Regions from separate parts of the Homo sapiens genome. Here all the other regions are linked to region 1. The links come from fine-mapping of genetic effects on gene expression. A gene starts in region 1. Each other region holds a variant in brackets. All regions are shown on one strand. Distances are from middle to middle.

Region 1 (4,241 bases):
TCTCTCCATTTTTAAAGTACCTCACTTAGTATCTTTGTTTTCATTTGTTAAATGCAAGGTCATCCTTTGAATGTTGTCTTCAACTATGCTTGAAATAGCTTGAGACCCAGCAGATAATTCTGACCAGGAGGTATCAGCAGACAGTGGGCAGCACAGTTAGAGGAAAAAAATGTTGCAGGGCCCCACTCCCAATAAAAACCTACAATAAAAAATTTAAAAATTTTAATAAAGAGGAAAATGACAAAGAGGTTTTCCAAAGGATGTTCATATTCTCTATTTAAAAACCCCACTGGGCCGGGTACGGTGGCTCAGGCCTATAATCCTGAGCCCTGGAGTTCGAGACCAGCTTTGGCAACATGGTGAAACCTTATCTCTACCAAAAATACAAAAATTAGCCAGTCTCATAACCCGCTCTTAAATAAATAGATTAAAATTTAAAAATAAATAAATAAATAAATAAATAAATAAATAAATAACCCCACTGATATGAACATTTCTTCCATTTTGGAGTAAAGGTGCCTACAAGGCTAGGCAATGTCCATATTTCTTTCCTGAATGTTTCCAACGGGGCTGCGCCTAGAGCAGATGTATCATAAATACTAATTACTTATTATAATGACCAAGCTACATTGTTAGCATAGAATAATTCCACAGGCTTCCCTATTGGTTTGTTTGATCCTAAGCCTATTAATACCTGCTTCTATGTCAGAAAATCTACATTAGGCCAGGCATGGTGGCTCACACCTGTAATCCCAGCACTTTGGGAGGCCGAGGCAGGTGGATCACCTGAGGTCAGGAGTTCGAGACCAGCCTGGCCAACATGGCAAAACCCCACCTCTCCTAAAAATACAAAAATTTAGCCGGGCATGGTGGCAGGTGCCTGTAATCCCAGCTACTCAGGAGGCTGAGGCAGGAGAATCGTTTGAACCCAGGAGGCGGAGGATGAAGTGAGCCTCAAAAAAAAAAAAAGAAAAAAAATATTATTTTGATACATGTTTTAAAGCTCACCTTCGGCATTATGAGATAATCCCTCAAGTGAGGAAAAAGGTCCATTTATTAATCTCAAAGAAAACAGTTACAGCAGATGTCACTGGTTAAGAGTTCAGTTGGTGAATAGCATTTCACAATTTGTACCAACATCTGGGGAAAGACGCTTTGCATGGAACTGTAAAACAATTGAGCACCAAATCTGCACAACTGCGTTTCTAGAAAATGCGATGGGTTTTATAGAGATGAGGTCTTGCTATGTTTTCCAGGCTGGTCTCGAACTCTTGGCCTCAAGCGATCCTCCCGCCTCGGTCTCCCCAAGCGCCGGGAGTACAGGCGTGAGCCACCGACGGAAATGGATTTTAAGTGAAAGTCCTATCTTCGTTTGCAAATCAATTTTTCCAGGATCAAAGTTCTAGCAACCATAAATCCTATCCTTCTAGACATAGGGACCCACATAAGGGCCACTTGATGTGACACTTGCCCCGACAGCGGTGCCACCTGGCCCCTAGGTGGCAGGTGCGTTTTTAACTAAACCCAAGAGTCTGAAGTCACATTATTCTCTTGCCTTGAAAGCTTAAGAGTTGGTTCCTAATCGGTGGCTTAACTCGGTCTCTCTCCAGGCAAGGCCACCTGTTTGCTGATCTTTCACAGGGCGAGGGGACCGGAGCCCTTCAATGCAGCGCCCTCTTGGCCTGAAGAGGGGGCGACTGGGCGCCCAGACCGCGTCTTTCTCACTGAGATCCCAGCTCCTGGACGACTGCCTCTTTTCGGGTTCGGCTCATTCCGCAATAAGTGGAGGGGTCCCGCCTGATCCTAGGGGCCGGCGCCCTTTTCCTTCCCTCCCTGCGCTTGCGAACCCCTCCGGGCGTCTCCGGAGCCGCGACCCCTGCTGGGGACCCCGGGGGCGGGAGGCCGAGGGGCGCGGCGAGGGCCGTGACGCGAGGCGGGGCCGGCCAATGGGAGCGCTCCGCGGCGCAGGCTGAGCCGCCGGGCCATAAAAAGGAGGCGCGGCCGGGCTTTCCAGCCTGTGGCCGCTCCCGGCTCGGAGTGTGATCTAAGCAGGTTGCGTACCTTCCTCAGGTGACTCCGGCCACAGCCCATTGTCCGCGGCCACCGGCGGAGTTTAGCCGCAGACCTCGAAGCGCCCCGGGGTCCTTCCCGAACGGCAGCGGCTGCGGCGGGTCCATGGAGAAGGGCCCTGTGCGGGCACCGGCGGAGAAGCCGCGGGGCGCCAGGTGCAGCAATGGGTTCCCCGAGCGGGATCCGCCGCGGCCCGGGCCCAGCAGGCCGGCGGAGAAGCCCCCGCGGCCCGAGGCCAAGAGCGCGCAGCCCGCGGACGGCTGGAAGGGCGAGCGGCCCCGCAGCGAGGAGGATAACGAGCTGAACCTCCCTAACCTGGCAGCCGCCTACTCGTCCATCCTGAGCTCGCTGGGCGAGAACCCCCAGCGGCAAGGGCTGCTCAAGACGCCCTGGAGGGCGGCCTCGGCCATGCAGTTCTTCACCAAGGGCTACCAGGAGACCATCTCAGGTCAGTGCGCCCGCGGGCTGCTAGAGCGTGCGGGCGGCGGGGGCGGTGCTTGCAGGAAACGCGCGCCGGCTCCAGGAAGTTTCCGGAGTTGCCTCACTTTTGGCGCAGGAAGCCGGGCGCTGTCACCTCCGAACCCGCCCTAGCCTGCCGCCCTGCCGAGGCCCTGCGTGGGGCACAGTCGGGGCTTCCTGGGTGGCAGCGACCTCTCAGCCCCGGAACTCGCTGCAGCCGCCTTCCAGGGGCCCTTCCCGCTCCCAGCGCGCAGCCCTCCTAGAACGCCCCGGGTGGGCGTGGACGGGAGCCCGGAGCCCTCTCGCCTGAGCGCCCAGCGCGGGATTCTCGGGGTACCTGCGGTTCCAAACTTGCCCACGATAAGGATCACCTGGGCACTTGCTGCGGCGACGGCTTCCTGGGTAGTTCCTTATTGAGATCCCATTGTCAGGGTGTGTATCTGGATTGAAGCCTCGGCGCGATCCTTCCCCGAAACCTCGGGGACCTGCATTCCCACTGATTTGCCAGGGGATCGGAGTCTTAGAGTTGTGCTTTTTTTTTTGTCCACCTCAAGTTTACTCCAGTTCAGGACATTTACAAAATTCGGCACAATTTTGGGCACGGGCTTCCCCGGAGTTTGAGGTGTGAGGTTGATTGGGTGAGTTTGCTGCTGAAATCTGTTTCCTCCCCCCACCCCCAACCCCGCAAAAAGCAGTAAAGCTACTCCGGGATTCGGAGGGCTCCGTGGGTTCCAGGACTCAGTCTCATCCCCGCACCCTCCCACCCTAAAATAAAGCCGGGTTGACCCGGTGCTGTTAGCGTCTGAGGCGTGTCGGCTTTTCACCCAGAGGGTGGGGATGCAATCAGTGTGGGTAGGATGCAAGATGGGGTGATGGAGAGTGGAAAATGGGGACTTTGCTGCCTGTTGGCCAGAGAAGCAGTATTGGTCTGTGTTTAAAAAAATAAAGCTTCTGGCTTCTACAGCTGGGACCAAAGACATTATTTTCCAGTCTACACCTTCCGTGTGTCTTGGTGACATTTATTTATTTGCCCTAAGAAGCATTCTACCGTTCACTGTTTTTTGAAAGAAAAACAGTGCGCTGGAAAGGCAATCTCCCTGCCCCAGTTATTTCTCTGAAGGAGTGTAGAGCGATTCCACCAAATAGACCCTGGGAAAAAGAAAGTTATTTTTTGCCCAGTCTTCCACACCCCAAAGGAAGGGTGGGAAATCAGAATGTGAAAGAGACGGGGCCCCAAAAGGAAATGATGCTACACTCTAAAACCGGCAGTGACTTCTAGTTCTGTTTCCAAATTCACTTTTTTTTACCCCTCAATTGCAAAAGTTTGGAATCTCAGAAGAGATTTCAAAATACAAAGACTGAAAAATAAACTTTCAGTTTTCTGTGGGATCAGCTCTTTGGAGGTCTAGGGCTTTAAATTTGTGTGTGTGTGTGTGTGTGTGTGTGTGTGTGTGTGTGTGTGTGAGATATTTCACAATGTAATGAAATGTCTTCTTAAGGCCTTACTCATTTTGCCCCTTGCAGACACAGAAAGTGGTTTACTTCACAGCATCGGCCAGGCTTTGGGAATCCTCCCTTAAAGAGAATTCATAGGACAGTGTTCTGTAATCTAGCATGGATCTAATTACCCAAAGAGAGAGGAATTTCTGACCCTGAGACAGGTCACAGAATTATCTAAAGTGACTCACAGATTTACTTGAGAAATGGTTAGC
Region 2 (4,241 bases), 84 kb after region 1:
AGGCACGATTGTGTGGACCATTCTTTATTTAACAAATATTTAATGAATTTTGGCTATGTACCAGGCACAGTTCTAGATACCGGGGATAGAGCAGAGAAGAAAACAAATTCCCTACTTTTATGGAGCATACATTCTAGTTGGAGGAGAGAGACCACAAATAGGTAAATGTATGCTGTGCGGCAGAGATGCTTGGTAAGGGAAAGGGGAGGGGGAGTGATTGGGAGATTACTAGTTTGGATAAGTTGTCCAGGAAGATGTTTCTACTTCGGTGGAGACTGAACAGAGCAAAAGAGGGCAGAAGTCAAGAAGACAGCGGAGGGGAGTTTCTGAGGGAGCTGTGAGTGCCCAAGGCCTGAGGTTGGAGCACATTTGATGTATCTGAGTAGCAGCAAGGAGGAAGTCGAGTGTCTCTAGTGCAGGGAGGGAAGCAGAGAGAGGTGGGAAGGGGCCAGGTCATGAAGGGTCTTGTGGGTCATTTAGGACACTGACTTTCACTGAGTGAGATGGGAGCCATTGGAGGGGCTGAGCAGAGAAGCGCAGGATCTGACTTAGGTTTTACAGGGGTACCCCAGTTCCTCTGGTGAGAACAGGGTAAGGGAGAAAGTGATGTCAGCTGGCGGCTCATGATATCCAGGCAAGAGATGCTGGTGTCTTGAACCAGGGTGGCATAGGGGTGTGAAAAGTGGAGGGATTGTGAATAAATTTTAAAGGTAGAGCAGACAGGATCTGTTGACAGATTATGTGAAGTGTGAGAGATGGAAAGGAGCCATAGATGACCCTAAGATTTGTAGCTAGAGCAACTGGAAGACTAGAACTCTCACTGAGGCTCTGGGAGGAATGCAGCTGGAGGGAGGGATGAACAAAGAGCTGGGTCACCAGCAACTCACAGAAGCCAAGCTATAAAATTGGAGTGTATTTATTGATGAACATGCTTACTTGTTTGAATGAGGTGGAGATTGCAAACTGGTGGCTCAGGGGCCGAATCTGGCTGGCCGATCTCTTTGGTTTGGTTCTCACGATATTTACTAAACAATTAAATTAGTTGTTGATGTTTAAAACTCATGGGATTTTATATCAAAATCTGGATTTGTGGCATCTTTTGGAAAAGTGAAAGATATGGCAATGCTGGGTTGTGATGAATAACAGTCCGGCTCTTCGGTAAAGTGTGCCGTGCTCAGTGGGCCGTCCAGTCCCCTACTTTCTCATTGTCTTACAGCCAACTGCTATCCTGTCTGTGCCCTGATTTCCTCATTTGAAAATAGGAGTAATAGTAGTTCCTACCTCCTGGGGTTGTAAGGAGAATTAACAGAGATAACTTATGAGTAGCACTCGAATAGCATTCAGAAATGTGAGCTATTACTGTTATTGCTGTTATTATTGATATTGTTATTATTATTACCTTGCCAGGCTTTGAGTTTGTGTGAGGATTTCAGAAAGCTGGAAGATGATCATAACAGGGATTGAGAGGTGAGTGAAGCTTCCCTTAATCAATGATGGCACCAAACCAGAAAGCAGGAGAGACGGAAGCACAGCTCCCAGACACAGAAAATTGCGTCCGCCTGAGCGGTATCAGCCCCACAAATCAGAGTTAATTTCTCTTCTTCTGCAGAGCTCGGCACAGTGGCCTGGATCACACAGTGACTCATCTAATAGCCCTGTGAGTTTGCCCAGCTTGCGGCATCACAAATTACACTTGCAGCCTCCTTATCAGGCAAGCTAGGAAATTAAACCTAAATGGCTATGGTGTTGCTAAGTAATATGGCTGCGTACACAGACACCCGAAGCTGAGACCATCACGGGCCCATTAAAGCATCATTTCCCGCTGTGGCTAATGAGGTTTGAATCCTTCAAAGGAAACCTGCTGTTCTTTTTTAAGGTCAGAAAGTGGGGTAACTCGGTTATAAGCAAGAGATAGAATTTCCCTTCCTAGATGCTAGGGGTGTGTGTGTTTATGGGTACATATTGGAGCTCTGTGGTCTCATGGCTAAGTGGCGGGGGTTGGGGGGAGATCAGAGACAGCCATCCTGCCCTCCCTGGACCCCTTGACCCTGGGCCAGGAGGGGCCTGGCCAATGGCACTCAGGCGGTTTTAGCTGAGTGCCTACTGGCTTCAATCTGGGAAGCTTCTTAGGAATATGGGGCAGCAGGGGATGACGGCATTCCTGGCATTTTCTTCCTTGGGACAGTTTTTTTCTTTAGGGGGCTTTTCTGTTTCTACAACAAAGTCCTAGAG[C/T]CATGAATGGGGCTCCTGGCCCCCAGGATGCTTGGGCAGCTGAGCTAGACCTGGAAGTGGACTTCATTTTCCCATTTCTTTCCAGTCAGGCCATCCGTGTCCATTTCAGAGTTTGGTTCCTCATGGACCCACAAAGATTAGAGCCTGGGGCACAGCCCCAGCGAGTAAGGCAGTGGCTGTATGTGGCCCCCTGAGTTCACTAACATAGTGACTGAGCATGTGTGTCACTAGCCCAGTGTGGCTCTTCTGAAGCTCCACAGCTGTGCTGGCAGTTAGCTGTTTAGTAAGTCAACACACTGCGGCTGCGTGGTCAGGGAGTTGGGGTCTGCCCCAGCTCCCCTCTGAAAGGATGCCCTCTACCTTCTCTGCTCTGGGCTCCTGAGATGGGTTGGGAGAGTGAATTACCTCCCCTTTAATTAGTATCTTTCATTGCATCTTCTCTACAATGCTGATGATTATTTTTCAAGACTCATTCAGGTGGGTTGGGTCTCACATCACTTCTGCATGGTGACCCGCGTATGGGGCTTACCGGCCACCTGGAGAACAGTGCCTGTGGTACAGTGGGTGTGTTTGTCCTGTCCAGGTCTGAGCGAGCCCTGAGCTTCATCCGCTGGGAGCTTTTGATAATCTGGCCTAGCCAGTCCCAGTCTTCATGAAAAGAAGAATGTGGAGGAGAATTCCAGAGCTGCTTTCTGGCATTCATTTTGTGATGGGAGACATGGCTGTCCCCAAAGGGGACAAGTACTTTTAGATTGGGGATGTTTCTAAATCAAACTCTACATAATCGAGTGCATTCTTTGCATTTTGTGAGCTTGCTGCAGGCTTGGACCTCTCTCCCTAAGGAAGGGTTGTGCTCTGCTGGAACTGGACGGACGTGTGGGGACTCACAGGCTGGCCACTGGTCTGACTGTATTTCCTACATCCCCACACACCATCCTCACAGGGAGGATGACACATGTCATGCCATGAAACACTTGACCAAGCATGGGTCAAAGCCACCAACACATCCCATTTTGTAGTGCCTTGCAAATCTTGTGTAGTTGTGAGCTATGATTTATTTCATGTAAGTGTATTGTGGTGCGTGGCTCCTAGTGGTTACTTTTCATATCATTATTTTTACCAAGTGTTTTCGCTCCTAAATTCAATCAAAAGCTGTATGACTTCTATCCCCTCTACCACTGTTTCCATTCAAGGAAGGAAATGCTGGCCAGATTTAGAGAGTGCCGATTTCATTTCCTTGGAGGGCCATCATTTGCTTGGTTGCATATGTGCTTTTCCTTGGTTGGTTCTTTTCAAAAATTTTTTTTTTAATTTTTATTTTTGTAGCAATCTTCCTGCCTCACCCTCCCAAGTAGCTGGGACTGCAGTCACGCACCACCAAGCCTGGCTAATTTTTAAAATTTTTTGTAGAGACAAAGTCTCTCACTATGTTGCCCAGGCTGGTCTCCAACTCCTGGGCATAAGTAGTCCTTTTGCCTTGGCTTCCCAAAGCATTGGGATTACAGTTGTGAACCACCATGCCTGGCTTAAAATTTTTTATTAAAAACAGAGGCATAAACACACACACTAGCCCAGGCCTACATAGGGTTGGGATCATCCATATCACTGTCTTCCATCACCATATCTTGTTCTGCTGGAAGGTCTTCACGGGCAATAAAGTGCATGGAGCTGTTATCTCCTGTGACAATAATACTGGAATGGACCCTGATGGACCAGTCTGAGGCTGTTTTACAGTTAACTTTTTTTTTAAGTAGAAGTACACTCTAATATAATGATAAAAATGATAGTATAGTGTGTATATATATATATAAGCTAGCAACATAGTCATTTATTGTCAAGAATTCTGTACTGTACATGCTGTACTTTTATACAACTGGGAACATAAGCTTTTTTTTTTTTATGGGATCATACAATTTTGTACCCTGCTTTTTCCATTTAACATCATATTATAAACATTTTCCCATGTCATTAAATTATTCTACATCATCACTTTCATTGCTTATAATTCA
Region 3 (4,241 bases), 40 kb after region 1:
GTATAGAACAAAGAGTTGTCCCATTTCCCTACCCCCATCATAATTTTATTTAATTTTGACTCTTTATTAATAATCTTTAAACAGAAGACTTACAAGAAGCAGTGTTATGAATACTTATATACCCATCAACTAAAGTTAAAGTGTTAACATTTGCTTCATTTTTGTCTTTGTTAAAGTATTGTATCTTTTCACTTTTTTATGGAAATAATATATAGATAGAAAATGCATAAAACTTAAGGGTGTTCCTTACCACTTCAGAGATCAAGAACTAGAATAGGCTGGCACGGTGGTTCATGCCTGTAATCCCAGCACTTTGGAAGGCTGAGGTAGGTGGATTGCTTGAACCCAGGAGTTCAAGACCAGCCTGGGCAACATGGTGAGACCCCATCTCTACCAAGATAAAAATAAAAATTACCTGGGCATGGTGGTGCATGCCTGTACTGCCAGCTACTCGGGAGGCTGAGATGGGAGGATGGCTTGAGTCCAAGAGGCAGGGGTTGCAGTGAGCCGAGATTGCGCCACTATATCCTAGCCTGGGCAACAGAGCCAGACTGCCAGACCCTGTCAAACAAACAAACAAACAAACAACAACGAAACCCCCACAACTACAATATGTGTAGCATCCTGGAAGCTCACCTCATTTCTTTTCTCTTCTTAATCCCTAATCCATCCTTTGTATCAGTTTATCAACTTATAACCCTATGGATTCGTTTTCTTGTTTTTCAACTATATGTAAGTGGAAAGATTCTACGATATGTACTCTTTGTGTCTGGCCTCTCTTGTTCTACATAGTCGGATTCATTGATGTCATTGCCTGTCATTGTAGTTTATTTTCATTGTTATATCTTATTCCATTGTACAAATATACCACAATTTATCTATTCTGCTCTTGGTGGACCTTTGTATTGTTGCCTCTTTTTTTTTTTTTTTTTTTTTTGCTATTACAAACAATACTGCTGTCAATACTTTTTTGGAGTACATGTGCATGCTTTTTTTTTTTTTTTTTTTTTTTTTTGAGACGGAGTCTCGCTCTGTCGCCCAGGCTAGATTGCAGTGGTGTGATCTCGGCTCACTGCAAGCTCCACCTCCCGGGTTCACGCCATTCTCTCACCTCAGCCTCCTGAGTAGCTGGGACTACAGGCGCCTGCCACCATGCTGGCTAATTTTGTTGTTGTATTTTTAGTAGAGAAGGGGTTTCACGGTGTTAGCCAGGATGGTCTTGATCTCCTGACCTCGTGATCCGCCCGCCTTGGCCTCCCAAAGTGCTGGGATTACAGGCGTGAGCCACCGCACCTGGCCCTAAAATATTTTCTTACTTATCCACAGCAGCACTATCACAAAATTAACAATAATTCTTAAATAGTGTCTAATAACGAATTCATATTTAAATTTCTCCAATTGTCTCAAATGTTTACTCTTGGTTTGTTTAAACAGGAATCCAAGGGAGAGTCACACATTTGTATTTACATTGCATTTGGTTATACCTGTTAAGTCCCTTTTGTTCTAAAATAGTGCTCCCACCCATAACATTCTCTACTGAAAAGAAAATAGGCCAGCTGTTCAGCAGAGTGCCCCACCTTCCAGATTTGTTTCCTTCAGCCTCTGGATTTCCTATAAACTAGATTAGATCTAAAGTTTCATAAGACTAGGGCTAAACATTTCTGATAAAAGTAGTTCGTAAGGGCTGGGCACGGTGGCTTACGTCAGTAATCTCAACACTTTGGGAGGCCAAGGCAGGTGGTGGATGTATCGCTTTGAGCTCAGGAGTTTGAGACCAACCTAGGCAACATGGTAAAACCCTGTCTCTACCAAAAAAAAAAAAACCAACCAAAAAAAAAAAAAACGAAAACCAATCAACCAAACAGACAAACAAAAAAACAGGCAAAAATTAGCTAGCATGGTGGCATGCACCTGTGGTCTCAGCTACTCGGGAGGGTGAGGTTGGAGAATCGCTTGAACCCAGGAGGTCGAGGCTGCAGTGAGCCGAGATCACACCACTGCACTCCAGCCTGGCAAGAGAGTGAATCCGTGTCCAAAAAAAAAAAAAAAAAAAAAAAGAGTAGTGCTTCATAAGGGTGCTGAAGACTTCATATTATATCACATCAGGGCCGAGTGAGGTGGCTCATGCCTGTAATCCCAGCGACTTGGGAAGTCAAGGTGGGAGGATAGCTTCAGGTCAATAGTTCAAGACCAGCAAGTGAGACTGTCTCTACCACAAAATAAATTTTTTTTTAAAATTAATTGGGCATGGTGGGTGCATACCTGTAGTCCTAGCTACTTTTTGGGAGTCTGAGGCAGGAAGATTGCTTGAGCTCAGGAGTTTCAGGTTACAGTGAACTATGATCATGCCACTGTACCCCAACCTGGGTGACAGAACAAGACCTTGTCTCTAAAAAGAAAAGAAGAGAAAGCAATCAGAAAACCCAGATACATCACATCAGAAGCCATATCGTATCTGGAAATCCTGCAATTGATAATGAAGGAATCTTTGAAAGGGAATCTATTGGTGAGCAAATTAG[G/A]CACAGAAAGCCTGTGACTTGTTCAAGAGGATAGAGAGAGTTAGTGGCTTGGCTGCAGCCAGATCCAAGGCACTGATTCTGTACTCAGCCTGTCACCATTTTATCCTGTTACTTTCTGCTATTACTTCCTCAGTGTTTGTGTTTTTGCTACCTTTGTTTTAAAAATATATTATTTAGTGATTTTTTTTTTTTTTTTGAGACAGTTTCGCTCTTGTTGCCTAGGCTGGAGTGCAGTGGTGCGATCTCGGCTCACTGCAACCTCCGCCTCCCAGGTTCAAGCAATTCTTCTGCTTCAGCCTCTCGAATAGCTGGGATTACAGGCACCCGCCACCACGCCTGGCTAATTTTTGTATTTTTAGTAGAGATGGGGTCTCACCATGTTGGCCAGGCTGGTCTTGAACTCCTGACCTCAGGCAATCCACCCAAAATGTTGGAATTACAGGTGTGAGCCACCACTCCTGGCCTATCTAGTGATTTTGTGAAATGGACATTTAAATTACCTAGGATCTTAAGACCAAAAATAGTATAAACAATGAACAAATTCCGTGTCTGCATGGAAATGTAAAAATTTCAGACAGCATAGAAGACCTTGGTTCATGGGAAAGTTTTAACTCTCTAATTTTTCTTTGAAATCCTCAATGTTCAGGTGCTATTTTACTTTTTCCTCCTGCCAACCAGGAAGGCAATGAGGTGGACTTCTCAAATTCCTAAAGCATAGTGCCAATGGATGGGGGAAAAAATCACTAAGTACTACTAGATCAATTATGTAAATAGTAAGTGAACAATGAAAACAGTGTTAGCAAACCATGATGCCGTTGAGTCTCTAATTTTATATTCGGTTAATTAATTGCCTACAAGTGACCATTTACTCTATTAATCTTTTCAGAGAACTAATGTTTTTCGTATGTAGTATTTGGCCCCAAAAGAGTAACTTTTATATTTGATATTAATTGGTGCCATTTAAGATAACAGAAATGGCCTGGCTGTATATTGGGTCCTTTAAAACTTAGTTCTTAGGGTGCAGGTTCTTGCCAAGCCATGGTGGTAGCAGTGCCCTTTTTCTCCAGTTAGGAAGATGGGGCCGGGCGTGGTGGCTCACGCCTGTAATCCCAACTCTTTGGGAGGCCGAGGCGGGCAGATCACAAGGTCAGGAGATCGAAACCATCCTGGCTAACACGGTGAAACACCATCTCTACTAAAAATACAAAAATTAGCTGGGTGTGGTGGCAGGCGCCTGTAGTCCCGGCTACTCAGGAGGCTAAGGCAGGGGAATTGCTTGAACCTTGGAGGCGGAGCTTGCAGTGAGCCAAGACTGGGCCACTGTACTCCAGCCTGGGCGACAGAGTGAGACTCCATCTCAAAAAAAAAAAAAAAAAAAAGGAAGATGGTGCACTCTCTAGCAGCTTAGAAACCAGGAAGCCAAGCACAAAAGGGTGTGGAGACCTTCTGTGCTGCAGGGCTTTGCGGTGGGATCTTAAGGCTGTGAGGTGGGATCTTAAGGCTGCTGTGATGTGTGGAATGGCAATACTTATGCTTACAGTTTTTGCCATTTAAAGGAGGCTTTCCTGTATACATTTTAGTGTTGCTATGAGATCATTTGCCTTTCCTTGAGAATGTTTCTCCTCCATAAAGAAGAAACTTTCAGATTTGTGTCAAGAGTTCAACTTCACAGGTAAGTGTCAGGGCCATGCAATTGACTCTTGAACAACATGAATTTGAACT

The links. PIP is the estimated chance that this variant, and not a neighbour inherited with it, causes the effect.
Region 2: its variant is the best candidate, but not a certain one, in a credible set for the expression of GCH1 in whole blood (INTERVAL, PIP 0.57).
Region 3: its variant is the best candidate, but not a certain one, in a credible set for the expression of GCH1 in whole blood (TOPMed, PIP 0.52).

Annotation. Positions count from the first base shown.
Region 1 is chr14:54,900,598-54,904,838 of GRCh38, reverse strand. It overlaps GCH1 (GTP cyclohydrolase 1), which reads left to right and starts at 2,013. Exons shown (of 6, transcript NM_000161.3): 1 at 2,013-2,518. The coding sequence starts at 2,176. RefSeq lists silencers at 1,659-2,298, 2,709-2,758, 2,769-2,828.
Region 2 is chr14:54,816,264-54,820,504 of GRCh38, reverse strand. No RefSeq gene overlaps it. Among named protein-coding and RNA genes, the nearest start is that of MIR4308, 60 kb to the left of the region's middle. The variant C/T (reference allele first, on the strand shown) is at 2,233.
Region 3 is chr14:54,860,196-54,864,436 of GRCh38, reverse strand. The region is part of intron 2 of GCH1 (GTP cyclohydrolase 1); the gene reads left to right. Among named protein-coding and RNA genes, the nearest start is that of MIR4308, 16 kb to the left of the region's middle. The variant G/A (reference allele first, on the strand shown) is at 2,520.